Homo sapiens: one gene and its partners. The protein of the gene in region 4 purifies or fractionates together with the protein of the main gene of each other region. This does not show direct contact. Each region holds a gene or a part of one and is shown on either strand. Other genes may lie near its edges.

Region 1 (7,464 bases), on a different chromosome or scaffold from region 4:
TCCTCAAAATATCCCTACATTTTGTTTCAGGTTGTATTATTATTTGCATAGGTTGTATTCCTATATTTTGTAATAGGTTTTATTATTGTCCCCATTTTACAGATGAGGAAACTGAGGTTTAGAGCTATGTAACTTGACTAAGGCCGAATAAGGGACAAAGCTAGCATTCAAACTTGGCTCTGTCAGATTCCAAAGCCTGTGTTCTTTTTATGATTGTATTCGAATATGACTAAACCATAATTGAATCTCATGGGCAAAACCCAAAAATTGGACCAATAAAGTGACAGATGAAATCCAACAAGGGTGATTTCTTCTTATACACAGTTAATCCTCCATCTAACAATAATTAATTTCTTCATCAGTTCAAATGCAGATAAGTCAGTACCACGATATTCTTTTATAATTAAAAAGCATGAGCTTACACTCAAATCTACTAATATTTTAAGAACATTTTGTGGTAGCATAGACTAAGAACACCAAAGTTTGAACTCCTAAAACTGACAAGAAAAAACTGACTTTGCTTTGAACTGAATCCAAATAACACAGAAATGGATCGTTTATACTCACATAACTTAGTATTTGTGCATGCAACGTAGATAGCATAATTCTACATTGAGAAATGAAGTTCAGATTCGAAAAGCAGACATTATCAAATTCATACTCGAAATGAGTATGTCCAATACTCGTAACTAAAAGCATCCAAAAAACTGTGAAGTTACAGAAATTTTCCATTTTCTTTTCTTATTTTTTTTTAGTCTGCTAGACAAATTCTAAAAGAGCTAAAAATATGGAACACTTCATGAATTTGTGTGTCATCCTTGTGAAAGAGCCATGCTTATCTTCTCTTTATCGTTCCAATTTTAGTATATGTGCTGCTGAAGCAAGCACTTATTTTATTTTTGAGACAGGGTCTTGCTCTGTCACTCAGGCTGAAGTGCAATGGCATGATCAAAGCTCACTGCAGCCTTGACCCAAGCGAGCCTCCCACCTGAGTCTCTGAAGTAGCTGGGACTATAGGAATATGCCGCTACATCCAGCTAACTTTTTATTTTTTGTACAGACAGGGTCTCACTATGTTGCCCAGGCTGGTCTTGAACTCCTGGGCTCAAATGATCCTTTCATCTTGGCCTCTCAAAGTGCTAGGATTATAGATGTGAGCCACAACGCCCAGCTGAGATTTTTCCATTTAAAATATACCAACAGATTTTCACTTTTTTGCCTGGTTCTTAAAACTATGAATGGCCAGTACAGCAAAAAGTTTTATTCGATTTTTAGACTGTCCTATAAAGTCAGTTTGAGTTGTTCCATCTCCCTCTACCAGTTTACTGAGCATCTCTTGAAAAGTGTATGGAAGATATTAAAAGTAGGGTCCCTAGAAATAAACCAGATACTTGGTTTTCATAAATACATAGGAATTTAATAGCTTAGAAACTGTTAAATTTTCACCTGTTCCTCTCTAAAAACTAAAATCACATTCCACAGGTCTGCTAGAAGAAAATGATTAGAGTTTGGAAAGTATCTGGAAAACACTATGCAATTGCCTAGACTAAGTTTTCCTCCTTGATTTATTATTTCATTATCTTCAAAGCAAACTATTGCTTTGTAATAGTTGTCATGAGCCAAAACTTACTTGTTAAAAATATTTCTTGGAGGAAGCAGCAGAGGAATAACAGTATTACTCAAGCATTCACAAAGGGGGCAAAGGAATTCTCCGTTTTCTACATCATAGCTCGTATGTAAGCGTAATCTCTGTTGCCTTCGCTGTTCTTTAGCTTGAACGGAATCAAAATACCTTTACAATTAGAGAACATGAGGTATCAAAACAATGGTAATTTACATAAATGACAGCCATAAGCTTCAACATTTAAAATAATTTGTTTCCACAAATAGTTCAAAAATGAAAATCTTAAACTAAATTATTTTTAACATGATTTTTGAGTGATTTTAAAAATCCAAATGGATTAAAAGTTCTAAAAGAGTAAAATAAAAAAAAAGACTGCCATGTAAAAAAGCATTCACAAAGCAGCAACAAAAATTTCTTGGTGTCATTGTTCTCTTGCCACTTCCCCAAGGCTGGTGGCTATTTGTTTTTTTTTTGTTGTTGTTGTTGTTTTTGAGATGGAGTCTTGCTCTGTCGCCCAGGCTGGAGTGCAGTTGCACAATCTTGGTTCACTGCAACCTCCACCTCCCACATTCAAGCAATTCTCCTGTCTCAGCCTCCCAAGTAGCTGGGACTACAATGTGGTGGCTAGTTGTTAGGGGTAGTTCATGATAACTGGGTGAGCATAGTTCTAGAATAATAGTATTATTGATTTGTTGGTTTTGTAGAAGCATAGGAAACACCAAGGTAGAACAAATTCAGGACATCTCATCACAGGGAGCCATTACAATTTTGGGAAGTAACAAAGCAAGTACTAACATCTATGGAATCAAAAGTTGTCCACCCTGGACCCAAAGAAAGACAACATTACCCTTCTAGAGTTTATCCTACTGTAAAAACCCTTTTCTTCATCCACAGACTGATACAGATCCACTTCCTTCTTTGGAAGATATAGAAGAGACTTGGATATAAAGCTAAATTAAAAAACATATCTGACATACACTTTACATCTATGACAAGGCAAATAACTTTTGTTATTTATTAGGCAATGATACGGATTTTTTCAACATTTTTAGTTCTTTTCCTTTTTTCTAGAATGAAATTTCCTCTATTTAAAAAATATTGAGCCCTTAGATAAACTTCTCTTGACAAATATTAAGAATATACATTACCTTTGCCAACAATGGGCATGCATAATGTGCCCACAGCTACTAGTGTGTGTTCCACAAGACAGATCAGGGTGCATGAATAATGGATCATATTTTTCTGCATTACAAAACAAAACAAAACAAAACAAAAGTGAAGCATTTAATTTTCCTATAACAAATGTGTAACTTTAAATTGTAAAATCCTTGATAAAGACTTGAAATTTGAAATGAAATGCTAGTTTATTCCTCTGAGATACCAATTTATGCAACACCTTGGATTATTTAGAAAGTAGGACTCTCTAATTTTCACCACCCACAGCAAATTAATTAAACATTCTCAAATTGTTAAACTGAAATTAGAACTATGAATTTAAATATATCCAATCTTTTGAACATTTCACACTTTCAGGGTGCTGAGATATTCCAATTCCTCCCATTGTACCCTGAGCTCCAGGTAAAAGAGCTACTCTCTTCATGGGGCTGCCTTATGTGCGTTCAGGGCAGCTGGGTTAAAATGATCGCTAATAAAAAATGTTTTGGCAGTAACGGGGCGCCCCCTAGAGGACAGACTGCCTAACAACACTCATACAGCGAATAATCACATCAGAGCCAAAGTGACAACAAAAAATCTAAGCACAGACCAGATCAGATGGGGGGAAAAAAGGTAATTCAGAGTCTTCTGTCCTGGTGCTAATTTTTATATTCAAAGGGGATGAAAAATCATGAAAAACAAGATGGATGTCTGGCTTCTTTTGGAATTTTTGAATTCTTTATATAAATTAGTATAATCTTCGAAATTTCCTAACACTCTAGAAAGAACTACTTTTAATTTGCTTTAATAGTTTTAATTTGCTTTAACACTAGAACAGTGCAAATGTCAAAGCATTAAGAAAATCCACTTATAGCCAGCTAATGCTTTTTCTTCAGAAGTAATAAGTTAAATAAAATTAGCAACTTTGTCTTTGGCCTGGAATGAAATTTATAAAGCACCTAGTTTAAATATCTTTTTTTTTTTTAAGACAGTCTCGCTTTGTCGCCCAGATTGGAGTGCAGTGGCGCGATCTCGACTCACTGCAAGCTCTGCTTCCTGGGTTCACGCCATTCTCCTGCCTCAGCCTCCCGAGTAGCAGGTAACTGCCACCACGCCTGGCTAATTTTTTTTTGTATTTTTTAGTAGAGATGGGGTTTCACTGTGTTAGCCAGGATGGTCTTGATCTCCTGACCTTGTGATCTGCCTGCCTTGGCCTCCCAGAGTGCTGGGATTACAGACATGAGCCACTGCGCCTGGCCTTTTTTTTTTTTTTTAAAAACAAACAAACAAACAAACAAAAAAACCACACAGGGTCTCGCTCCGTTGCCCAGGCTGGAGGGCAGTGGTGCAATCTCGGCTCACTGCAACCTCTGCCTCCCAGGTTCAAGCAATTCTCATGCCTCAGCCTCTTGAGTAGCTGGGACTACAGGCGCGTGCCACCAAATTTGGCTAGTTTTTTTTTTGTACTATTAGTAGAGATGGGGTTTCGCCATGTTGGCCAGGCTGGTCTTGAACTCCTGACCTCAGGTGATCCACCTGCCTCGGCCTCCCAAAGTGCTGGGATTACAGGCATGAGCCACCATACCCAGCCTAAATGACCATTTTTAAAGATGAAGCAGACCAACCTTTCATAAGTAGGATGCAAAGACTTTCTTTACAGAGAGAAGGCAACTCTAAAAGTGGGCTCTCAAACCTCCTTTCACGCTGCAGTGTGAAAGGCACTGGTTAAAGCAGTGCTCTGGGAATTCCCAAGACACAGTTCCTACTCTCAAGAAGTTTACTGGGTATCGCTGAAGCACACGCACACAGAGCACAACCTACAAGCAGAGAAATAAATGTGTCTGTGGTGGACAAAATCATGTGCGGACTGGATCTCCCTGCTTTACTCCCTCAGTTGCTGAAAGAGGGCCCTCAACTGTCCTGCACGGTAATCTGTATCCCAAGAATCTGCTTTCTGGGGAACCCGATCTGTGGTGGTATTACTATTCTAAAACAATTTGGCTCAAGGATTGCCTCTTACATAGGTAACTCTCCATCACTGTTCTCAGGAGATTCCACTCAGGCTCTATCAATAAGACAAAACAATTATTATTTCAGTGTGTCAACAAATGACCAGGACTTTGCAAGTGTACTGAAGGATGGAAAAGACTGTGAAATGCCAAAGTATGTAATGTTACATCACAAAGAAAAGCTTTTCTTTGAATCCCTGCTATTTATCAGCTATGTGATTCAGGTGCAACTTTCTGGAGTGGTTCCACATCTGCCAAGTGGGGAATTCCTGCCTAAGTTACCTGCCAAAGATACCATCCAAGTCCATGGAGTTATTTTTAGGTTTAAAAAATCTCAACGTATCACCAACCACATTAACTGGCAGTTGTTATTAAAAGGGAAGATGAGGATCTAGCTATGACTTACCTGGATCTTGAATAAATTTACTTCTGTTTTTTGATAATACAGTTGATCTCTGAACAAATGCTGCCAAGACCATTGCCCTGCTTTCCACTTTAACTTCTTGCTCCTCTTGACACAATATACATGTAACGAATTGTCTTTGTTCAGGAACCTGAGTTTGTGCGGGGCCCAGTGCTGTAAGTGTCATATCTGAAGCCACAGGGCTGCAATACAAAGGTTATGAATATAATTAATGATCCCAAAACTTTCTATATAATCACAAAATAGCAGACTACAGGTATGTGTGTGTGTGTGTAGTGTGTGTGTGTGTGTGTGTGTGTGTGTGTGTGTGTGTGTGTATATATATTTATTTATTTTTTGAGACAGAGTCTTGCTCTGTCACCCAGGCTGGGGTGAGTGGCACAATCTTGGCTCACTGCAACCTCCGCCTCGCAGGTTCAAGCAATTCTCCTGACTCAGCCTCCTGAGTAGCTGGGATTATAGGCATGCACCACCACACCCGGCTAATTTTTTTTTTTTGTATTTTTAGTAGAGATGGGGTTTCACCATGTTGGTCAGGCTGGTCTCGAACTCCTCACCTTGTGATCCGCCCGCCTTGGCCTCCCGAAGTGCTGGGATTACAGGCGTGAGCCACCACGCACAGCCAGGAATGTATATATTTAACACATGGTTTTGATAACTTGGATTGTCAAGTCTTTGGTATGTATCAAAACCATCTCCTTTAATCCTCACAGTAATCTAATCTTCAACACAGATGTCATACGCTCTAGGTAACTGAGTGTAGTGTACTCATTCTTTCATGAATGTCCAAGGTCTTCTGCAGAAAATACCCTACCAGGTGTACACAGGACTTACCATACCTACATTCAGAGACTTCTAAGATTAAATCTTCTAAATGGAGGTCACAAAATTTACCTATGAATTCTACTAAATTACTTTAGGATTAAAAGTATACTTACAAGGAGAAAACGCAACACTGCCCCTAGTTGGGAAAAACTCGTCAAGACATTAATTTTTTTTTTTTTTTTTTTTACCTATGATCAAGAACAGCAGAGGTTGAGGCATCCAGTTCTAATGTCTGCTGAAAGAGTTCTTTGTTTTCATCAATAAAATGCCGCTGCATTTCAGACATCTGAGCCATGATCTTTTCTCTGCGCAGTCTGGCAATCTCTGCTTTTCTCTTCCTCTCAGCTTTGTCTTTGTCCCTTGAACTCTGAAATTATGCTCCATTCAATTAGACAATTAGATGCTAAAACGCACATTTTTTTCCAAAGCAGAAATATCTTCACTGTAAATACCAATTAAAAAACTATTCTATAATCTCACTTATTTAAATAAGAGAAAAGACTCTTAAACTGACTTGTTTTAAAGAAAAAAAGCAGACAAAAAATTGCTACAACAAATAGAGATAAATAGTGGCATATTTCTTGGAATTTAAATGTTGTGAGTAACTGGCAACTTAATGTAGATAAATTTATTTTGTTCATACTGAACTTGCTGTAATTTTTTAGTATTATCACACTTTTTACTGTTTATACCTCTTCCATTATGGTTCCTTCTGTCTCTGCCACGGGACTGGTAGGTGAACTCTCCCTCATCTTTTTAACAGCATTAAAAGTCTACAAAAAAAAAAGTATCAGTATCCTGTATGAAATATGATCACAATGTACACATAACAAATATTCAATATTTCTCACAAAAAGCAGAGGAATGTGGAAATTTTACCTTCAATATCCACCGAATCATGTCTTTGTGGACTTCTAGGTAGGGAGCATTTTGTAGTGTTTCCAGCATAGCTAGTATGCTAGGAGAATTTTTTGGCGCTTCACCAGGTTCTACGGCAGAAAAATAAAAGGCACAATAACAATAGCTAATACTTCATAGTACTTATTCCTACGCACAGGAACATAAATGCAGTTGCTTATAACACCTATTGCCCATAATTTGATTATGGCTCTACCAAAATAGAGATTTTCAATACTTCTTGAGAATGTGACATATTTGTCTTTTACAAACAAGTTGCCAACAACTAGAATTCTTTAAGGATTCAAAAGTGACTTTTTATAGCAAATGATTATTTTAACATCCCTTTAGCAAAATTACATACAAATTCAGCTAAAAATAAGTGGTGTCTCAGATTTTACAGGTCTAAAAATAAATTAGCATTAAGAGGTGCATATATGCACAAATATGTTTATTTGCTCTGACCATTGACTTTAATAAAAACTAGATTCAGAATAAAATGAATTTCTTCTCCTAGGAATTCATAGTTT
Region 2 (8,402 bases), on a different chromosome or scaffold from region 4:
CAGCTTATTGAAAACTTATGCTTATGTACATAAAGCTAATGTATGGCTTTCTAAGGTAATTTTCCTGTGACTTAAAAAAAAAAAAAACCACCTTGTGACTTCATAAATGCAATTCATATTTAGGGAAGAGAGGAGTCACACTCAGTATCTTCAACATCAGTTCCTCACTTCTCAGCCCCAGTGTGTCTGAGAACACAAATAACTTTGCTTTTTCTCTTTACTGCAATTCTGCTCCTTTATCACTAGGCTAGGATGTTTTGAGTGATGGAGTTAATCATTTTTTCTGAAAGATGATTACCAGAAAGCATAAGCCTGACCCCTCACATTAAACAGGGATTACCTATACCAGCTGCCCTAGCACACAGAAACAGCTTTTCTATACCACAGCTTTTCTAGTCCACAGAACCTCTGCAAAAGGGCCACAATGGAAATCACATGTATGCAAAGTGCTTACATCACTCTTCGGTCTTCTCAATCTCTCACTAAATGACTTGTATCCACATGAAATGATCCGGCAATAACGAGGACCCATCACAGATTCTAAGAACTACTTTTTACTATACCCTATAAAACATTATTAAAGCTACACAATCAGTTACCAGAAGGAAAATTTAGCCGACCCTTCATGCTAATTAAAATCATCTTCATCAAAGAGATAACGTCATATCATTATCAAATTCATTGCTAAACCATATATTAAGATAGTTTTGTTCCAATTATTACTTTAGTAATTATACATGAACTCTTCTATATTTTTACTAGCTTATAAGCAACAATGGCTCTCTGGCTTCCCAACAAGGCTTCTCAGCACTACTGGTGCACTGTATCCATACCACCTGAAACTTTACTGCCAAAGGAAAAAAACAAGTGATTATCCGCTAAGGAATTTCCTTCCACTTGGGCTTGAAATACATTTCTGAAGTCGCTCCAATTTTTTCCAACTTTCTTTCTGGAATAACATACAGCATGCACCAAGAGTAACAAACACAGTGCTCAGGGAGCCCTTAAATTGAGAGTGGCTTTTCTGTCTTTTGATTACCTATTTATTTTCTAACAAACGGAGCCCTTTTGGAATTTTTGCTTTAGGGAATTTACATTTTAGAACAAACACTTTACTGAACTTAGATTTGTGATGTCTGCACATTTTCTTGAAAGTTCATGGGAAAATGGGGTGGAAAAAGAAGTAATGAAGGGACATCAGATAAATAAAATTTGAGCGTCGGCTGGGCACAGTGGCTCACGCCTCTAATCCCAGCAACTATAGGAGGCCTGCAAGGAGTCCTTTTGGAGGACTGCTTGAGCTCAGGAGCTTAAGACCAGCCTGGGCAACATGACCAGACCCTGACTCTACAAAAAAATTTTAAAAATAGCTGGGCGTGGTGGCATGCACCTGTAGTCCCAGCTACTTGGGAGGCTGAGATGGATCACTGGAGCCCAGGAGTTGAAGGCTGCAGTGAACTATGATCTGCACTCCAGCCTGGGTGACAGAGTGAGACTCTGACTCTAAACAAATAAATTAAATTAAATTCAAGCTTGCATTGCCCATTATAGAATGTGACTGGGGTACCTTACAAACTTTTGCCCTGTGGGGAGGAAAATGTTACATACCACTCATAGGACACTCACCTTCAGGATTTTTACAACCACTCTCTCATTGTTGGTGATATTAATGGCCTCAAATACTTCACTATATTTTCCCCGACCAAGTTTTCGAACCAGTTGGTAATCATCTTGATTACTGTAAAAGGAAGACACACACATAAATGCCAGGACTGGGGGTTAACCAAGCCTATGCCCACTGTACACGTCATTCAGCCGCTTCCACCAGGCAAACACTTGGAAGTGTCTATACATCACGTCACAACTCATTCCCTAAATGAAAGCCACGACATAATCTTGGCTCCCTTCACTCTGCAGAGCTCCTAACCTAATTGGTCTCTCCTAACTTGGGAAGATGGGGCAGGAAGGCAACGCTCTGAGCCAATCCAGAGGGGCGAGCAAAGCACCCGTCCTGAAGGCCTAGAGGGTGCCCCCTGTGCCCCGCGGCTCCCCAGCACCTGCTTCTCGTTTCACATCTTCAAGGTAGACAATGCCTGTTTTAAAAATCTGGACGTCTTTAAGAAATTTCCTCCCACCACCTCATCTCAGAAAACCTAAAAGGCAGGGCATTTTAATAGCTCCAAAGGACAGCTGTTGACTTCCCACCCCAGTGGAAACCCAGAAGTGTGAGGAAGGGCAGCTCCCTCACTTCCACCCGGCGTCGATCCCTGGACCCCACACTTCTCCCCGAGTAAAAAAGCATTCCTTGGGGGAAAGGGGTGCGCAAAGCGGGGAGAAAGGGACGAAACGGGGGTAAAGGGGAGGGAAGAGGAAGACGAGGACATGTGCGAGAGCGGGACCTCTGCCTCCCTGCGGGCCCGCGGAGGGGTCGGCGGGAGACACCACCGGGCCCGAGTGCGGTTCGCAGGGGGTGGCCGGGCGGGGGCAGGGATCAGCGGGCCCGGCGGGGGGCGGCGACGGCTTTACCCCCAGCTCGGGACGTGAGCCTCGTAGTCCCAGTACTCGCGGCTCCTCAGACTGTTCACCTCGGCGTAGACCCGGGCCCTGCTGCCCGCGGCCGGGCCGGGCATGGCGGGCGGGACCGGGGGGCGGCGCGGGGCGCAGAGGGTGGCGGCGGCGGCGCGGCGGGGGACGCGGGGCGTCGGGCGGAGGAGGCAGCGGGCCGCCGGGCGCTGGAGGAGGAGGAGGAGGAGCGCGGCGGCGGGCGGCCGCGCCAGGCCGGGCCCGCGGGGGCGGGCGGGCTGGGGGCGCGGGGGGCGCCGGCCGAGCCGGCCCGGCCCTGGAGCGGCCGGCGGGGCGGCGGGGCGGGCGGCGCTCGCGCTCCGCGGCGGTCTCCGCTCGGCTCGCGGCCCCCAGGAGGCGGCGGCGGCGGCACCGGCAGCGGCAGCCACCGGCCGGGAAAGGGGCAGCGGCGGCGGCAGCGGAGAAGAAGGAGGAGAGGAGGAGGAGGCGGAGGAAACCCGGAAAAGGGGCCGCGCTCACTGGGAGCGGCCGCCGCCCGGCCTGGGGCCGCCCAGGCTCACAGCGCCCCCTGGAGCGCGGGGGGACCCGCCGGGCGGTGCCGGCCCCGCCCCGGCCCCGCCCCGGCACGCCCCGCCGCCTACCTCGCGCCCTCCGCCACCCTCGCCCTCCCGCCGCCACAGGTCGGACTGTCCAAATCGCCTCACCCTCGGGCTGGCTTGACTTCACGCCACAGGAGCCCCCCCTTCCACTGGCCGTTGCCCTAGAGCCCTCGCCCGCGACTCCCGACCCTTTCACTGTCCTTGGAGACCCTATCCCCAGCCCTGCACTCACCCAGCTTTTACCCACCCAACACATCCCATACTGACCCTATTCTGACCCTCCTGTCACCCAAACTGTCAAGTCCCTCCCCAGGGCCTCACTCAAACCTCAGAACCTCCCCCACCTCAATACTTCTCCCTTCCCCCGAGACATACCCCTCCTTCCCCCTCTGGACCCTGCCCTGTTAGGGTAGACTCCTCAGTCCCCAAGGCTTCCTACCCCCGTCATTCAGAGTGCTCCTCACAAAACCTTTCTACACTTCCCCCAAATGCCCTTCCAGAGCCTTCCCTGAATATCCACTTTGGTCACTTGGTTAAGCTGGCATTGACCAGGTTGTGCCACTGCAAAGTTACAATTTTTCCCTTTGTGATTAATAAGTCATTTGTGGGGAGAGACTTTGAGAGTGTAAATCTCCTGTTTGTGTTTAGGAGGAGGGAGAGCAGGAGAATTGCAAATCCGACCTGAAGGGACAGGCTGGGTTGGGGATGTGCCCAGAGTAGGTGGTCAACTGAGCTGGCCTGGCTTCCAGTGCTGCCTGCAGCCTTGAACACCCTTCTCCTTTGATCTTCTAGGCCTTTCTTCTGTCTTCCTTTCCCATCCCTCATCCTTTATCGACAGCACCTCTGCACCCAGTACAGGTTGCTTTCATTCCAGTCCCTTTTCACATTCTGTTTTCTGGATGAAACCCTGGGCCTTCCTGCTTGACACAGCTAAGAGCACAGTCTGTGGAGTCAGATCTATCCAGCACTGCTACTTAGAAGCTGTGTGACCTTAGGGCAATTACTCAACCTCTCTGTGTCACAGATTCTACAGCATAAAACCAGTAATAACGCTCACTTCACAGGGCTGCAAGGAGAATTAAACAAGGTAAACCATGTGAAACACTTAGGATGGTGTTCACTATTAGGATAGCATGTGTTCAATATGATTATTTCCAGGCCTAGGGCCTTTCTCTGCTCATTCCTCCCTCCCTGAGACCACCGTGCATCCGTCTTTTGGTTCCTTCTATCCTCCAAGCTTAACTAGGAGCCACCCCCAACCCCTCCACCCCACCTTCCCAAGGGTGTCTCCTTTTTCCTATTCAAATTTCACCTTTTTCTTTATTAGTAGTATTTTTTTAGAAATAGGGTGTCTCTATATTGCCCAGGCTGGAGTGCAGTGGCTATTCACAGGCATGATCCCACTACTGATCCGAACAGGAGTTTTGACCTGCTGTTTGCCACCTGGCAACCTGGTGGTCCTCCAGCCCCAGGAGGTCATCATAGTTGATGCCAAACTTAGTGTGGACACCTGATTGGCATTGCACACTACAGCCCAGAACTCCTGGGCTCAAACGATCTTCCCACCCCAGCCTCCTGAGGAGTTGGGACTACAGGCATGCCTCCAGCTCAAGTCTCAGCTTAAAGATCACTTTCTCTAGAGTTGATACTTCTCTATCTCAGCACCCTATCCACGTCCTTCATCAAACTGCATATCTTGTCATTATTTGTTTCCTGGGTTATTGTCTGTCCCCTCCTTTGTAAAAACAGCACAAGAGCAAGGACAGAGTGTGGGCGCTCACCACTGACTCTCCCAGCATTTGCCACAGTCAGAGACCTTCAGTAAATACAGTGCTACCCCACAGATGACTTAGGAATTACCAAGGGGAAACGAGGTCACCACCTTACCCATGGTCCAAACTTCTCATCAGTAGGGAACCAACTGATCCTCTGATGTGATGCACTGAGAAGGGACACCTCCCCCATGTGGTCCTCCTGCCAAAACATTTAACCTGAATCTAATGATAAGGACACCATCAGACAAATCCAAGCTGGGCGACATTCTGCCAAACAGCTAGCCTGAGTTCTTCAAAAAGTCAATGTCACTAGGAGAAAGAAAACCAAACGAAACCCTAGATTCGTATTCTTGTTACTGAAGACTTAGAGACATAATTAGATGAAGTGTATGATTCTGAATTAGAGTCTGGATTTTTTTTTAAAGTAGAAAGGAAAGGAGGGAAAGAGAAAGAATACAGCTCATATTGGGCTGGTGCAAAAGTTATTGAAATTCAATTGAAAGTAATGGCGAAAACCGCAGTTACTTTTGCACCAACCTAATAGAAGGTTACTGCAGGGGAAATTTGAATATAGGATGTATATTACACAATGTTAATGTATATTACACAACGTTATATTGTATCAATGTTAAAGTTTGTGAGTATGATCATTGTATTTAGTTATGCAGGAGAATCCCATAATTTTAGGAGTTACATGCCAAGTGTGTAGAGATGAAGAATCAATATTTGCAACTTAGTCTCAAATTGTTCTCCAGGAAAATGTGGGTTTCTGAGAGCATAAGCATGCATAGAGTGGGGAGGAATTGGGGGAAAATTTTGATAATTAGTGAATGTAGTTGAACAGTACATGAGCTTGCAATTTTTTGGTAGAATTTGAAAATTTTCAAAATAAAAACTAGAAAAAAAAATTAATGGAAAAAGTGGACTTTGGAATTTAATTCCTGAACCTGCAAACCTTTCTAAATCTCTTTCACTCTAGAAGACATAAATATCCTCAAGCTCTTAATGCAGCTTTAGGATTTGTTTCTGACAAGTCCCTGTGAACTAGACCAGACCAGAGATTCTTAATGCCAGTCCTTGGATGAATTTCCCCAGTTCTGGGAACCCCTGACACAATATGCAGAATTTGTGGGTTTGTGTGTGTGTGTGTGTGTGTGCATGTGCGTGTGTGTGTGTGTCCATTCTTTCCTTAGCATACATCAGATTCTCAAAGGAGGCCATGACCCAAAAATGATTCCAAACCACTGGTTTAACTACTATGTCCAACCTCAGCTGGGGCCTCATTCCTCACCTCCACCCTCGCCCACCTCTGACCCCACCCACCCTCCGTGCACCTTCCTCTCATCCCTCACCACATAGCCCACACCCATCTCACGTAACCTGATCCCACACCTGCGGGATGCCTGAGGATTCACCCACACACCACTCTGGTGCAACACACTCCTGGATTTGGCTGACACCATACTAACTCAGCCCTAAAACCTGCAGTCAGTCCACCCACAGCCAAATGGAATATTTCTGTGGTTTGTTGGGAGGTTGGGTGGGCACCCCATGGAATTGGCAGAGACCCCTGCCTCTCATTTCTGCCCACCCGCCATGAAACTGGCGTGGCTTGAGTTAAGGTGGGCAATTGGAAATGGTACTCATGCAACCCTCACCGAAGGAGTCTCACTTGGATATGAAGAGGGATAGGGTGGTGACTCTGCGGGGGAGGTGCCAGGCAGGGAGGGTCCGTGAATTAGAAGTGACTTCCCCTCATTACTCTGTGTGTGCAGTTTGAGGGTGAGTATAATTCAGTGGTGCAACACAAGGGAATGAAAGAGGGTATTTTGAATCAAATAACCCAACACTTTCATACCACCTCCAATGCCCCCAAATTCTATCCAAACACCAAAAATCCAAAAAACAAAAGCACATTTTAAAATCCCACTGAAGGCCACCTATCTTCACAAGCCTACTTTCAAAACATTTGAGAAGTTTATAGGCTTTTATCCTGCATCGATACTTCTCAAGAACCTAGCCTAACAAAATAATGAAAATTATGAACAAAGAATTATTGATCATGATGGCAATTTGTGTGTTCATCACACACATAATGATTCTACATCATTGAATCCCGCCAAAACCGTACATGGCTAAAAACCATTGAATTTAGACTTTAAATGGGTGGATTTATGTTATGTGAATTTTATCTCAACATAGCTGTTTTTAGAAATCTATAAGGTTGGAGCTCTTGTAAGGGTCCCCTTTGTGCGGAGGAGGAAACCAAGACTCCAATGACAATGACCAACTGAGGCAGAGCCTGGATTTGAACTCTGATCTTTCTGACCACCACGTCACTTTCCTTAACCCCTTTCTGATTCAGTATGTCATGCAAAGGCCCACAGACGTTCCGCATGATAATCATTATCTTTAATCATGAAAATGTAAAGTGATGTAAATATCACAAGCTGGGGGACCAGCTAAATAAATTGTGATACATTCCCTACAGTGAAACTATTAGGCGTTACTAAAAAGCATGATTATGAGGAATTTTTAGCAATGGACAAATTTTAGGACACAAGATTTTTAAATAGGAGAGCTGGGTATGGTGGTTCACGCCTGTAATCCCAGCACTTTGGGAGGCCGAGGTGGAAGGATCTCTTGAGGCCAGGAGTTTGAAATCAGCCTGGGCAACACTGAGAGACCCCAACTCTACAATAAAATTTAAAAAATTAGCTGGGCATGTTGGTGCAAGCCTTAGCTACTCAGGAGGCTGAAACAGATGGATTGTTTGAGCCCAGGAGTTCGAGGCTGCAGTAAGCTATGGTCATGCCATTGCACTCCAGCCTGAATCACAGAGCAAGCTCCTATCTCCAAAAATAAATAGATAAATAAATAAATACGTGTTAAAAATTTGTGGCCAGGTGTGGTGGTTCACGCCTGTAATCCCAGCACTTTGGGAGGCCGAGATGGGTGGATCACCTGAGGCCAAAATGGTGAAACCCCATCTCTATTAAAAATACAAAAAATTAGCTGGGCATGGTGGAAGCACGCCTGTAACCCCAGCTACTTGGGAGGCTGAGGCAGAAGAATCACTTGAGCCTGGGAGGCAGAGGTTGCAGTGAGCTGAGATTGCACCATTGCACTCCAGCCTGGGCAACAAGAGCGAAACTCCGTCCCAAAAAGAAAAGTTGTACAAGTAATTGTGGTAAGCAGAATAACATCCTTCACCCACCTCAAAGATACACACTTATGGCCGGGCACAGTGGCTCATGCCTGTAATCCCAGCACTTTGGGATGCTGAGGTGGGTGGATCACCTGAAGCCAGGAGTTTGAGACCAGCCTGGACAACATAGTGAAACCCTGTCTCTACTAAAAATACAAAAATTTGCTGAGTGTGGTGGCATGCACCTGTAATCCCAGCTACTCAGGAAGCTGAGGCAGGAGAATTGTTTGAACCCGGGAGGTGGAGGTTGTAGTGAGCCGAGATTGTGCCATTGCACTCCAGCCTGGGCAACAGAAT
Region 3 (7,308 bases), on a different chromosome or scaffold from region 4:
GTTCACTCTGATGGTAGTTTCTTTTGCTGTGCAGAAGCTCTTTAGTTTAATGAGATCCCATTTGTCAATTTTGGCTTTTGTTGCCATTGCTTTTGGTGTTTTAGTCATGAAGTCCTTGCCCATGCCTATGTCCTGAATGGTATTGCCTAGGTTTTCTTCTAGGGTTTTTATGGTTTTAGGTCTGACATTTAAGTCTTTAATCCATCTTGAATTAATTTTTGTATAAGGTGTAAGGAAGGGATCCAGTTTCAGCTTTCTACATATGGCTAGCCAGTTTTCCCAGCACCATTTATTAAATAGGGAATCCTTTCCCCATTGCTTGTTTCTGTCAGGTTTGTTGAAGATCAGATGGTTGTAGATGTGTGGTATTATTTCTGAGGGTTCTGTTCTGTTCCATTGGTCTATATCTCTGTTTTGGTACCAGTACCATGCTGTTTTGGTTACTGTAGCCTTGTAGTATAGTTTGAAGTCAGGTAGCATGATGCCTCCAGCTTTGTTCTTTTGGCTTAGATTTGTCTTGGCAATTCAGGCTCTTTTTTGGTTCCATATGAACTTTAAAGTAGTTTTTTCCAATTCTGTGAAGAAAGTCATTGGTAGCTTGATGGGGATGGTATTGAATCTACAAATTACCTTGGGCAGTATGGCCATTTTCACGATATTGATTCTTCCTATCCATGAACATGGAATGTTCTTCCATTTGTTTGTGTCCTCTTTTATTTCATTGAGCAATGGTTTGTAGTTCTTCTTGAAGAGGTCCTTCACATCCCCTGTAAGTTGGATTCCTGGGTATTTTATTCTCTTTGAAGCAATTGAACTTCCACAGTTATTAACCTTTGACAAATCTTCATATAACTTGTTAAGACATGGAGTCCAAAATACTGTTGGTAATGTAACCAAATTTGGAGATCATGGAGAGTAATTTATGCAGTGTGCTTTGAGTATGAACAATGTATATTCTGTATGTACAAGCCCAGAAAAGTAGCTGGAGACAAGAAGTGCTTAAAGATTAAATTAAATTTGTCTTGGGTGAGGCTATTACAATGATTCCTCATTTAAGCTCATCTTGACATTATTTTCACCATCGTAACCCCAGTTCCTGGTTCAATGCCTAGCATATAGTAGGTGCTCAAAAACTGTTGAATGAATGAGCCTGCTTAGCAGTTTAGATCTCAGCAGCATGAAGAAGCCCATGCATTGTAGTATAAGCAACCTTTGCAGAATGTTTCTTAATGTGTATCTGGTGCTTTCTATGTCCAAGATCTTTACTAGCTGTGTTGGGGCCTACTCCAAGTGCCTTACATGCAGTAACTCCTTTAATTCTTGTAAGAACCCTATGAAGAAGGTACTATTATAATTTTTTTTGTGTTTCATAGATAAGTTACTTGTAAGTTGGTAAAGATCACACAGATCATAAGCGGTAGATCTGGGAATAAAATCCAGAGTCTGTGCACTTAGCTACTACTCTGCTGTGGCATCTGAATAGCATCTATGGAACACTCAACACATTTGGGGCACTTTGCTAGGTGCCTTACTGTTGGGTTAACTCACAAAAGTCACTCCTTTGCAATGCCAGATAACGAGAGGGTGCTGCACATGGAACAGCCTTTCTTTCTTTCTTTTCTATCTTTTTTTTTTTTAACAGACTTTGCCATTTTTTTTGTGAACCTAAGGCACTTCTAAGTGCTGTGTGGGAGGGAATGTGGTAGACTGATTTCATTGAGACTCTGCCAAATTCTGGTCTTGCGGCCATCAAAGACGCATCATTTCCTCCAAGACTTCTAAAGGGGGCTATTACCACGGGCCTGCAGGTTCTGGTTTGCATTCAGAGGAGACACTATCTTCTTAAATGAGACATGGAAGAGGAAGTGTCATGAACTGTAAATAAGGCTGATAGGGAATTGTTTGGTGATGGGGATGGAGAAAAACTGCCCTCTCCAAACCAGGTTCCATCTCCCACCCCTTTATCCAACTTTGCCAGAGTCCATCCTATTTTATTTGCTGAGTTTACTAGCAGGAAGAGAGGAGTTTCTTTAAAGATTCTCTCCCCTCCCCAAATAAATACCTCCCAGATAAATATGAGTACATCTATATAGTAGAGCACTATGCCAACATTGAAAAGATGGAAGGATGGAGCTTTGTTCGCAGCCAGCTTAGGCAACATAGTGAGACCCTGCCTCTATATAAAAATAAATAAATAAATAAATAAATAAATAAATAAATAAAAGATGGAGCTTTAAAGGTTGATGTAGAACGAATCTCCAGTGTATATTATAAAGTGAAGGCTGGGCAGGGTGGCTCGTGCTTGTAATCCCAGCACTTTGGGAGACTGAGGCAGGAGGATGGACTGAGTCCAGGCATTGGAGACCAGCCTGGGCAACATAGTGAGACCTTGTCTCAAATAAATAAATCAAATTTAAAGGGAAAAAAGCCAAGGCTCAAATAGCATTTATACCAAGCAATTGTGGGAAGAGAAGGGTGACATGTCTACATACTTGTGTTTAAGAATCTGCTTGGAAAAAAAAGGAAACATAAAAATGCCTCTGCCAAAAGAAAAGTCTTTTCACTCTAAGCCTTTTTGTGTTTTTCCAAAATTTTTTTTTGCCATATACATTCATTATATTTCAGCATTAAAATATTTCACCTGTCAACTTGGAAAAGTAAAAGCGTGAATACAGTAAATATTTAAAAACAGATGAAGATAAGTAACAGGTTACATTAATTGTATACAATCAATCTAGTTTGAATTAGGTGTAGATATAATAATTCTGTGTGTTTATCTTGGTGAAGAATGGTCCTTTAGGTTGTCATTAAAAAGCACCTCTGGGAGGTAAAAGACATAGGCATCTGGAAGATTCATATTTAATGAAGTTAGGGGACATTTGATGTCACTCCCCAGGTGTGGGGAGATATGGACAGAAAACCAGAAGGAACGAATGTGGTCAGGAAGGAATTGGAGTTCCCCTCCAAACAGCTGCCACAAGAAGTCCACACACGTGGAGACAGTTGTGCAATTTGGTCACAGAGTGTCCTAGGTGCTTTTGCTTCATTGCTCCTCCACTGAAGCACGCTGGCAGCTGGCCTCCTTCCCCTGGGACTAAGGATATCTTGGCTGGAAGCTCTGCTCTGAAAAGGGGCATGGCCAAACTTTCACTAGGGCTCTTCGTTGGGGAGCACGATGGACAAAAGCCTTCTTGGGGCTAGGCAGGTCACTTCAAACTTGGAGCCGCCAAATATTTTGGGAAATAGCGGGAATGTTGGCGAACTGGGCAAGTGCGTTTTCTGATTAAGAGCAACCAGATTCAGCTTTTTAAACTACAATTATACTGGCCAAACAAAATACCCTTATACAAAAACCAAAACTACTGGCAGGAGTCGCTGCCAGCTTGCGACCCGGCATACTTGGCTGAGTATCCGCTTCTCCCTTGTGGCTCCAAACTGCTGCAGATTCTCGGCCACTTCAGACGCGCGCGATGGCGAAGAGGGTCCTGCACTTTGACGCGCCTGGTGAGGGAGCGCTGCTCTTCGCAGCGCTCCTGGTGATGCTCCCCAAATTTCGGGGACCGGCAAGCGATTAAATCTTGGAGTTGCTCAGCGCCCGTTACCGAGTACTTTTTATTTACACCAGAAACAAAGTTGTTGCTCTGGGATGTTCTCTCCTGGGCGACTTGGGGCCCAGCGCAGTCCAGTTGTGTGGGGAAATGGGGAGATGTAAATGGGCTTGGGGAGCTGGAGATCGCCGCCGGGTACCCGGGTGAGGGGCGGGGCTGGCCGCACGGGAGAGCCCCTCCTCCGCTCCGGCCCCGCCCCGCATGGCCCCGCCTCCGCGCTCTAGAGTTTCGGCACCAGCTCCCACCCTGCACTGAGTCCCGGGACCCCGGGAGAGCGGTCAATGTGTGGTCGCTGCGTTTCCTCTGCCTGCGCCGGGCATCACTTGCGCGCCGCAGAAAGTCCGTCTGGCAGCCTGGATATCCTCTCCTACCGGCACCCGCAGACGCCCCTGCAGCCGCGGTCGGCGCCCGGGCTCCCTAGCCCTGTGCGCTCAACTGTCCTGCGCTGCGGGGTGCCGCGAGTTCCACCTCCGCGCCTCCTTCTCTAGACAGGCGCTGGGAGAAAGAACCGGCTCCCGAGTTCTGGGCATTTCGCCCGGCTCGAGGTGCAGGATGCAGAGCAAGGTGCTGCTGGCCGTCGCCCTGTGGCTCTGCGTGGAGACCCGGGCCGCCTCTGTGGGTAAGGAGCCCACTCTGGAGGAGGAAGGCAGACAGGTCGGGTGAGGGCGGAGAGGACCTGAAAGCCAGATCTAACTCGGAATCGTAGAGCTGGAGAGTTGGACAGGACTTGACATTTTGCGATCTTTCATTTACCAGTGGGGAAACTGAGGCTCAGAGACTGGCCCAAGATTACCCAGCGAGTCTGTGGTCGCCTGTGCTCTAGCCCAGTTCCTTTTCTAGGACTCTGGTTTGCGACAGGGACCTCGGCTGGAGCATGTCCTGAGATGCCGACACACCCTCAGGCTCTTGGGAGGCTGGGGTGGGAAGGCGCCTGGGGTTGGCAGGCAGGAGGTGCCTCCGCAGGCGAGAACAGGCGGTGAAAAGTTGTCTGGCTGCGCGCAACATCCTAGTCCGGGCCCGGGGAAGAAAACCTTGCCGGAATCTCAGGCCGGGTCTCCCGGATCGGACGGTACACTCGGTTCTGCCTCTTTGCGGGACCCGGCCCGTTGTTGTCTTCATGCTCGAACACACTTGCACACCACTGTGTGAAGTGGGGTCTGGAGCGGAGAGAAACTTTTTTTCCTTCCTTGGTGCAGGACGCCGCTCTCCTTGCAGAGCGAAGAAGGGGGGGAATAGGGACTTGTCCTGGGGGCTTTGACAGCTTCCCCAAGGGTCTCCAAGTAACAGCCAACTGTCCTGCGTAAAGCATTGCACATCTTTCAAAGCGCTGTGGTCCTTGGTGTAAGCGCATAGTCAGAAGTTCAAGCTCCGAAAACCTTTCCTGTGGGCCTTGGTACCTAGCTTTAGTGCCATTCCTTCCTCTCCCTGCCGCCTAAAATTTCCGTCTCCTTCAATTAGGAACACACACGTTCTTCATGCAATAGCTGTCTGTCTTTTCTTCCTCACTTTCCTTTCTCTCTCAACCCCTTAGATAATATTTCTTTCCTGCAGCCAGTTTGCTGATATCCAGATTTCCACCCTTTGCAGGGTGAGAAAGGGGAAAGGGTCAGAGAAAGAAAAAAAAAAAGTCGAATAATTCAGGGAAAAAAATTTCTTACTCCCTAAGACAAGAATCACATGTCTTAGAAGACACTCACACCCACATACAGTACCAGGATCATCTGTCCATGGTTACTGAATTTTCTTTATAATGACTTGGTTCAACGGGTCCAGTCCACCATGGACACTCATTTGTCCCAGACAAGCCCTCTCTCTCCCCCTTTCTGGGCAGAGAATGAAGGTCTGGAACATGTGGTTGCTCTGTATTCCACAAAGAAGTGAGTTGCTTTTAAGCCTGGGGTGTTTCCTAGCGTAGTAGTAACGGCAGGCCGGTCGCCCTGAATATAATGGTGAACTTGCCCTTTTGGAGTGCATTACTTGCTTAATTGGATTGGGCTGTAATTGGTGCCATCAAATTCTAGAGACAGAGGCACTGTTGTTTTTCCTTCCCGTCTTTGAGCTGGAAGGGTAACAGTGCACAAATTAATTAATATTGGTTATGGGATTTGAACATAGAAGGGCTTTTTATTGAGTAGTAGCATGTGTACCTCTTACAGTTATTTCTTTAGAACTTTCTGAAGAGTCCAGCTCAAGCTTGCCAATGAAAACGAATGACATTTAATGGAGCAAAAACAAAAAACAAAAAACTATGTTGGTCTACAAATATGAATTTGAAGTTATTGAGAGCCTTGTTGAATAGATTTTTGTTGTAAACGTGTCTCTAGAATAGTATGGCATAGTCTCAGCTTCCTATGAATGAAGGACATACCTTTTCTTTTTTAAAATATTTGTTACACAGGAAAGTGTGTCTAGAATGTGATCTGTGGCAATAAATTATGAGAGACCTTCAAGAGTTTCTGATTTTGGTAGCCGAGTGGGCACAGTTTATTGAGAATCATTTTTACTGCCATTTGTTTTCTCACAAGAATGTGCCCAAATAATGGTTTTTTTCTCATTTGGATGGCAGTGTGAATTGTACATCATGTTTTCAGCATCTTTCTCAACCTAGTGTTCCCCAGTCAAGTTTGAAATCTGTGTTATCCAAATGAATTGTTTTCATTTTCCTTTTCTTAGACAAAGTGGGACTCCAGGTTTCATTTTGCTTTTAAACATTTTGGTTTTTTGTTTGCCTGTTTTGGGGGCAGTTATTTCTTTCATATTAAAAAGTACTGTGCAGGCTGGGTGCAGTGGCTCATTCCTGTAATCCCAGCACTTAGGGAAGCAGAGGCAGGAGGATCGCTTGAGTCCAGGAGTTCAAGAAGTGCCTGGGCAACATAGCGAGACCCCATTCTCTATTTAAAACATAAATGTAACCCCCGTTCCACGCACAAAGTACTGTGCAAATTAATTAAACATGACCACCCAGACCAGCAACTGTCCAAGAGTGGCCCATAGACCATCTGTGGTAGGATAATTTGAAATGCTTGTTAAAATGCAGATTTGTAGACCCAGGGATATTCTGACAGAGTCTAAAGTCTTAAGAACAAAACTGTTCTAAACATAAGTCAGTACCAATGCCAGTTAATTTCTGAGATATATTGATATAACTTAGTTTCCAGTTTTTTAAAAACCATATTATTGACTTAAAAACCATGATATTGACCAGTTATGTCAGTAACTTATTTTGCACATCTGTGTGGTGTGTGAGAACATGTGCAGTCACTTATTCATTTTGCCTGCATTTGTTCATATTGGGATCCTCAGATTCAATGCACTGGATGTTTGCACTGGGTATTTACTTATACTCTCTCTATTTATTCCGTCTCATACTTCGTCCTATTTGTTCATACTCTCTTATTTGCCCAGCAAGGTCAATGCCAGTTTAGGCCTAGGGAGTCATTTTTTCTTAGTTGATATGACTTAGAAAGCTTGGGAGCCTGCCCAACATCAATTACTTTTTTAAAGCTGGTATTTTCTAGGTCTTGATATTTATTAAGACCCTAGCATAGTGGACAATTTTTCTTTCTCTCATGCTTTTTCAACACCTCATAGCTCTTCACATTTAGTTGACAGAGAATTCAGTTATCTTGCTGTAGAGTGACCCATGGTGAGGAATCTATGCCATGGTACTTTTCTGGTTCTTATCCCTTATAGGTAAAGA
Region 4 (7,464 bases):
CACCAGAGATCAAAACCAGAAATAAAAAGATGAAGAAAAATACGGCAAAGGAGAATGTTTCTGAATTTGCTTGCACATAAAATCTGCATAATAAAGCAGGCTCCAGATTGAAAAGTTTGAAACAAAGACAAGATATTTCCATCAGTAGCCACTGAAAAAAATTAGAAAATGCATCAGTAGGATTCTGCTTTTTGATTAGAAATAGTACCTATTTTTTCTATATCCACTCCAAAGACTTTCACTGTCTATGTTCAAGGATAGTACCCACAGGCTTCTTTTTTTTGAGACGGAGTTTTGCTCCTGTTGCCCAGGCTGGAGTGCAATGGTGCGGATCTTGGCTCACTGCAACCTCCGCTTCCCAGGTTCAAGCCATTCTCTTGCCTCAGCCTCCCGAGTAGCTGGGACTACAGGCGTGCACCACCTTGCCTGGCTAATTTTTGTATTTTTAGTAGAGACGGGGTTTCACCATGTTGGCCAGGCTGGTTTCAGTCGAACTCCTGACTTCAAGTGATGCCTGCCTCTGGCTCCCAATGTTTGCGAGTGAGCCACCGTGCCTGGCCTGTACATACAGACTTCTAAGACTCTAGTTGAGTTTTACCTGATTTTGAAATGTATAAAAATGAAGTCACAGAAGTTAGGACAGCAGTTGCCCTTGAGGGCAAAGGTTGGTGACTAAAACTGACATCAGAGGGCTTCTAGGAAGCTGGAAATGTTGGCCTCTAGATTGGTTTTGTGGATGTATCCACCTTGCAAAATTTTATCAAATCTTATACTTGGGTTGTGTATTTTTCTAAATATATATTATACTTTACTAAAGGTATATATTCTTCTCTATTTCATATGGAAAATAGAGATGTAGTTTGGCTTAAAAAACTCAGTTTTCCATAAAACAAGGATTTTGTTTTAGTCTAAGTGATGCTCTAAAATACAAGACTAGAGTGAGGTACTTCCCTTGGATACAAAAAGCCAAAAACTCAGTGATTAAGATAAATAGTATTTTAATGTAACATTTTTTAAAAATCCAAATTAATCCTAAAAAATCCATGCTAGTAATAATAAAGAAAGATTAAAACAGAAAATATTACTCATATTACTCAGGAAAACAGAAAATGGAACTTACACTCCAAAAAATGCCAATAAGTGTAAATGTGCAGGAATAAATGTAAATGTGCGGGAATAATCAGATTTGAGAAACCAAGGGCAGATTATTTTTCATTCCATAAGTTTATATTCTCTGAAAATAAAAGACATTAGCACTGTTTCAAAGTTTTTAATAATTTAGGTAATTTAAAAACTAGCATTAAAGGAACAATATCTGAATTATCCCAACAAAATTCTGAAACGAATATCATCTCTATTTGCTTATAATTTCACTATGATTAAACTTCTTACGAAGTTACAAGTATGCGATCTTCCTTTGAACGCACTGAGTTAGGAAAAACATGCCTATTGTTGGTTACACAGAGGAGAGATTACAAATCTAAATCATAGTTGAAAAAAGCAACTGTGCCATGATATGAAACAGCACTGTCAAATCAGACACTGAAGTCGGTAAGTAAGATTTTCTTCTTGTCAGTAGGAAAAGCACTACTGGGTTTGAGTCCCCCAATGCTACCACCTTTTTAGACTTTTGTTAGAGCTTTGCATTCATTTCCTTAATGTTTTTAACCCAATGTCTGTGAAATTTTTATTGCTCCCCGGATGGTGACATCTGATCTGAATGTAACCATACACCTCTTTGCTCAGCAGTATTTGTCACAAACCATTATAAATTATCATGCTGATTGTGTGCATTGCTGGGAAACTGGAGAAGTTTCATAAATTCTAACTACCATATCAATGACATTCTTGTTTATTATACAGATATAAACTTTTATGAGATTCAAGATGTCTGCCTTACCACTGAAGAAAACTTTAGTGGAGTAAGATCTAACTAGTTCGATGTACATACTGAAAACCATTTTCAATGTGCAATGAACATGTGTTTCCGAAAACTCTCCACTGGTCACTTCTTTATTTCTTTTCTATTTTTAATTATGCTTTGACACTTCACAAGTGTGCAGGATTTTGCTGGCAAAAAAGAAATCAACATTCCTTCCTCTCCCTCAACACCTTCTTCGGTCAGAGCATTCTCTAGAATCCTCTCAATCTAATAATAAAATCATGCATATATATAGCTGGGAAAAAATCCTAGTTCTGTGTTAGCCCTGCAGACAGACGCTCCACTGGTCTGTTGATCGACTGATTTACACCACATCTTGTTCAATAAAAGAATTAAGGGGTTATAGTATTATGGTTCTGATGCTTATTTGTAATGAAACCTCATTCAGTGCTGGCATAGACACAGAATGTTGCATGTTAAAACTATGGAGGCACAACTTACACATTTAATTTTCCTAACGAAGTATCCACCTTTGACAGCCACTGCAAAAACTTCACCATTTTGCAAAGTATGATCCAGAATTAACTCATGAACTGGGTCAGTCTTGGTGCTATTCACATGAGAAGTTGTGACTGTATACTGTATTGTTAAGATTATGAAATGATGTTTTTTACCTAATTATACATAAAACAATAAAAATCTAAATAAAAAATTTTTTTTTTTCTACCAGGACTATGTAGCTGGTCTAATGACTTAACCATCCCTATACTCTACAAAAGAAAACTGTTTACTTGGGTTTCAAAGATGTTTCACAATAAGCAAATGTGCTAAGGCATCGATTTCTTAAGCTTTCTCAGGGTGGAAGTTGACTATACAAATACTGACCATTTCAAGAGAAAATGCAGGGTGTATCATGTGCAAATCATCTCATTACTGGGTCAATAGATTTAGTTTTGACGTATGTTTAGTTTCATATTTCCAAATGTTCTAAAAATCACCAACTTGTTAAAGATATCATAATAATGATAACTTATTTTGAGGGTCACTTTTACCTTTTAAAAAGGCTTTCCTATCTACTACTTGATCCTACTAGTAACCCTATGACATCAGCATAGCAAATGTTTTTTACTGCCAACAGACATATAATGAAGCTGGAACAAGGAAAAATATTAAATGTCTTAAATAAGATGAATAGTTTGTTCTTAACAAGAGTGATAACTAAAAGCTCACCAGCTTTCAGAATGTGGTTTTAACTGTGCCTAGTTTTGTGCCACCTCCAATCCATTTTTGTAAATAGCCTGATATAAAGTACAAAAAAACCCTAATAACAAAACTATGTTTGTAGGAATCTAATCTAAACTTTGAAGTCTATGAATTTGTTCTTCAAATAATTTCTGGTGTTCCCAGGTTTTTTTTTTCCCCCTAGGGCATTCCAATCCCCTGTAAAATTTAAATCTGTGGATTCTTCTCAAAGCCTTCACAAAAGGAGGTAAGTATTTTGCCACATTTGTAGAATCTCAAATGCACCCTTCAACACTGAGCACTAGTCATTCATATGAATCAGCTTAGAAAGATAGTGAAAGGAATGCCTTATGCTGGTCTTCCTATATCTTTCTGGAGTTTCTCATTGATAAAAAGCTCACAATGCAACACTTCAAAACACAGCAGGAAGATATTTTCCATGGATCTAATCTCCATTGACTTCATCAGGCTAAATATAACAGCCTTTCAGCTTTGGCCAGGAGATGACACCTTCACAGAGAGCAAAGCCTCAGTTGGGACAATTAAGAAATCACCTTACTCTGTAGCATTAAAAAAACAAACAAAGTCACCATTATTAAGATTGTTATGTAACATCTTCTTGGCCATGTCAGTTTCTCAAATACTTTGCTGATATCACTAAAACTGTCATTTTCTGTGAATTACAATCATCTTTTAATGTACTTTTTAAAAAGAAAACTAACCAAAAAGGTGCTCCTTTAATCCCATTATACCCCACCTGACACCATGATATGACAAATCATTATTTAAGGTTTACTGTGAGCTAGACACCATTGTAATACTGTGAGATGCTGTTGTAATAATTAGTATACGCTGATTATTTGGAAACTGATCATCAGCCTATGGATTTATGCTAATTCTCTAGGCACCAAAATGTTGAATGAACCAGATGACCTTATTTCCCTGACCATGAAAAGCTAGTTTACTACACCAACTCAACAGGTTGTTGAGCGCTTTCTACAGGTAGGAAGATTTTTATATTACTCTGTTCTTTCCCAGAAGAAATGTATGTGCAAATAGAATTGTAAGCCCTTTACATATATTAAGTGATTCAACTGGCTTCCCTTCTTAAATTTCTACTCCAGTTGTGTGCTGGATCTGGCGCCCACCAGCTCATAAGAACCAACTGTGCACATTTCTTTGCTAGTCTGGGCACAGTGACATCACATGGTTAGTTTGAAATTGGCTATGATGAGAGTATTTACACCACAGAAATTGGCATGTGCTACATACAAATGAGGACTTGACTCGTCTTCTCCAAAGAGCCAGCTGTTAAACATTTACCACCACATCACTGCCAATAACTAGTGATTATTCTGAATTCTTTAAGTATTATATTACACGTATTGATGGTCATGATTTCCAGATTAGAAATTAGTAAACGTCAGTTTATTGAATTCTAACAGCACTTTATTTTTTGGAATAATGTTATTACTTGAGTATGTTTTACCAGAGTTTCTCCTATAGCAGTTTAAACATGGTCAAAAAGCAAATACTAATAACTACTGCTACTACTAATGAAGTAAATCAAATATAAAAGAAAACAAGTCTCCAGATTGTCTAGGTGATTGACACTGTAAAAACCACCATAAAGAATATTAGCAAAAATAAATAAATCAATACAATGAACTCTTTGTTTCCAAGCAGTCACTGGAACACTATTAATGGTAACTTCCATACACAATTAAAAAGTCAATATAATGCCCTGAGGCACTTCTGAATCACAAAGCAAAGATAAATTGGAATTGGTGTAATTTTGTTGCACTGTAGTATACACTGATTATTTGGAAACTGGTCATCAGCCTGTGGATTTATGCTAATTCTCTAGATACTAAAATGTTGAATGAACCAAATGACCTCATCTCTCTGACCATGAAAAGCTAGTTTACTAAACCAACTCAACAGGTTGTCGAGCACTTCCTACAGGTAGGAAGATTTTGATATTACTCTGTTCTTTCCCAAAAGAAATGTGTGTTCAAATAGACTGTCTTTAACAATGAATATACTTGCAAAATAATATTTAGGTCCAGCGGTAGCAGTAGTCTGTAGATATCATATACGGTTACACCAAACTGACCCACTTTAAAACTTGTGAAAACCTCTCAGTCCCTGAGAAACACTTTAGAATTGAGATTTAAATCGATTATTTTTCTTTGATAAAACTATTTATATATGTACAAACTTAAAAGATGGATATTCAGGTTCAAGTCTCTGGAGACTACACCACTTTCAGTGGGTCAGAATGGGATAATGTGGACAAGACAGAGACAGGGGGTCTGTTGGGTGTTAAGAGAGACGAGCAAACATGTATCTGAGTGGACTGCTACGTGCAAGGTAAAAACATACTTTCGATACTGTGGAAAGCAATATCCACATACCAGTTCTTTCACATAAAGTGAGGAAATATAATTTCGACTGTCTCTATAGTGAGAATGTCTTCATAATAACGAAATTGGGCATAAGTTGATGTTTAGAAACTTAACAATAGAAAGAGATAGCAAGACTAAGCAGGTGGATGAAACACTGATGTGTATTTGAGTTCCCATTGTATTCATCGTGTCTTAACAATTATTTTCTAGCATTTTCCATAAAAGTATTTTAATCAGTAATCCACCATTTACAAAACCCCTCATCTGGCTTATCCTGTAGGCCTTATTTTATTCAATTTGCTTTTTCCATGTCAAACTTACTTAGTAAGATGAATGCAGTTCTTAAATCATAAGATGTGCCACAGTTCAATATATCTCAAATAGTGAGATCTCCAATCACACTATCTGTGGATGCGATGTATATTAGTGATCCACTGTATTTCGTAAAAATACAAGTGAGATTTTTGAGTTTCTAGTTCTTCCCCTCTCCAGGAAAAAAAAAAAAAGAAAGAAAAAAGAAACATACATACTGTATACATTTCTTAACAAGAGTTCCCAAACCAAAAGTGCTAACAGGAAGGAGTATAAGAGCTTACACATTTAACTATAATCTTCCTGGTTTGGGGAACTCAGAAATCACTTAACGTACTTCAATTTCCATACCATTGACATATAATCTGGCTGAGATTGGAATCCCTCCTGGATCCATTTATAATCTACATTGTACACACCGACTTCCCCCCCGTAGACAGGCGTGACCACTAGATGGTGCTGTGGTGCCCTGTTCAAAAACATTCCCACTTACTTGCAGTCTCTGTCCTCCAAATCGAAGTGAGGGTTGAAGTTGATCATAATTCTCTGGTATGGGTCCGGAGCCTGAATCAGCCATTCGCATTTTTCACTTGGGTGATAAGAATGAGGATAACCAGGAGATGTAAGGTACCCGGGGCTTTCAATTTTTATAGTATCGCCACATTTATCTGCAATGAAAGTAAGATTTTAGCAGATCTTTCCTGACAACCTGTTAGGTAATCTAGCTTTATATGTAAATTACTGGTTATTAAACATTCCTTAACTTTTTAAGGGGAACTCTAAAAGGTCCCCGTAAGTCCTTCGTGTGGCTCTGAGTGCAACACTCCAGGAAAAAACACTCTTTGATCTCAGGAAGGTTGACTCAGGCAGAAAGCCAACTGAGATCTGAGAGGACTCTTCCCCCCAGCCCCGAAGTTTCTTCCTAAGGAAAAGGTCTTCTAGCATTAAAAACATTAAATCCCCTCAATTGATGTTAACATGGTCCCCTGGGAGCTTCTGCTAGACTTAATTATCCCCCAAGAAGTGTAATCACATTAAGTAGCAAGTTCTAAGTGGAAAGTGACTGAAAGATGCTGTTCGACCCCTTGTGTTGTTTTTTGATGATAAGCCTGGTCTATGTCATTGATCAGTGGGGATTGTCTTTGATTGGCTTAAAGCCAAACCTTTTGTTGTTGTTGTTTTATCTGCCCATAAATCTAAGTGATTTTGAGTTATCTCTGCTCTTGAGATCCAAATCAACAGAGAACAAAGTATATTTGGTGAAGCAGAAATAATTCTGCTTTACTTCTCCAAGTAAAGTTGTTCAAGCTTGGAGATCGGATCAAAGCAACGGGGCAGAAGGAAAAGTAAATAGCCACATGGCATTAATTCTAATTACCTAAATGTTGGGTGAAAAATAACCCACCACACAGGTCTGGGTATCACATATGGTAACCCACATTCTCACATTCTGGGAAAGGTGAGCTAAGTAGTTTTGAGCCTTCATTTCAAAAATGCTCAAGTGAAGCCAAATAAACCAAGTAAACCAGTCTCTGGGCTGCCTATATTGTTCAGCATAGATTCTCATTGTCACATTTTATGATGGATTTCATACTGGAGCACCTCAGCCTGAAATGCTGC

The links.
Region 1: the proteins of NRP1 (region 4) and UBR2 purify together in Homo sapiens (affinity purification with mass spectrometry; 4 studies listed by BioGRID and IntAct, with this or other methods). This does not show direct contact.
Region 2: the proteins of NRP1 (region 4) and CSNK2A2 purify together in Homo sapiens (affinity purification with mass spectrometry; 6 studies listed by BioGRID and IntAct, with this or other methods). This does not show direct contact.
Region 3: the proteins of NRP1 (region 4) and KDR purify together in Homo sapiens (affinity purification with western blotting; 7 studies listed by BioGRID and IntAct, with this or other methods). This does not show direct contact.

What each region holds. Positions count from the first base shown.
Region 1 is NC_000006.12:42,657,586-42,665,049, reverse strand, and holds part of UBR2 (E3 ubiquitin-protein ligase UBR2), read right to left. Parts: intron 7,027-7,464; coding exon 6,917-7,026; intron 6,811-6,916; coding exon 6,730-6,810; intron 6,405-6,729; coding exon 6,226-6,404; intron 5,395-6,225; coding exon 5,195-5,394; intron 2,867-5,194; coding exon 2,773-2,866; intron 1,793-2,772; coding exon 1,631-1,792; intron 1-1,630. UniProt on the Homo sapiens protein: E3 ubiquitin-protein ligase which is a component of the N-end rule pathway.
Region 2 is NC_000016.10:58,195,107-58,203,508, forward strand, and holds the start of CSNK2A2 (casein kinase II subunit alpha'), read right to left. Parts: upstream 3,001-8,402; 5' UTR 2,631-3,000; coding exon 2,527-2,630; intron 1,803-2,526; exon of another isoform or gene 1,739-1,802; coding exon 1,627-1,738; intron 1-1,626.
Region 3 is NC_000004.12:55,122,146-55,129,453, reverse strand, and holds the start of KDR (vascular endothelial growth factor receptor 2 precursor), read left to right. Parts: upstream 1-3,858; 5' UTR 3,859-4,160; coding exon 4,161-4,227; intron 4,228-7,308. UniProt on the Homo sapiens protein: Tyrosine-protein kinase that acts as a cell-surface receptor for VEGFA, VEGFC and VEGFD. Plays an essential role in the regulation of angiogenesis, vascular development, vascular permeability, and embryonic hematopoiesis.
Region 4 is NC_000010.11:33,324,371-33,331,834, forward strand, and holds part of NRP1 (neuropilin-1 isoform a precursor), read right to left. Parts: intron 6,513-7,464; coding exon 6,338-6,512; intron 1-6,337. UniProt on the Homo sapiens protein: Cell-surface receptor involved in the development of the cardiovascular system, in angiogenesis, in the formation of certain neuronal circuits and in organogenesis outside the nervous system. Mediates the chemorepulsant activity of semaphorins.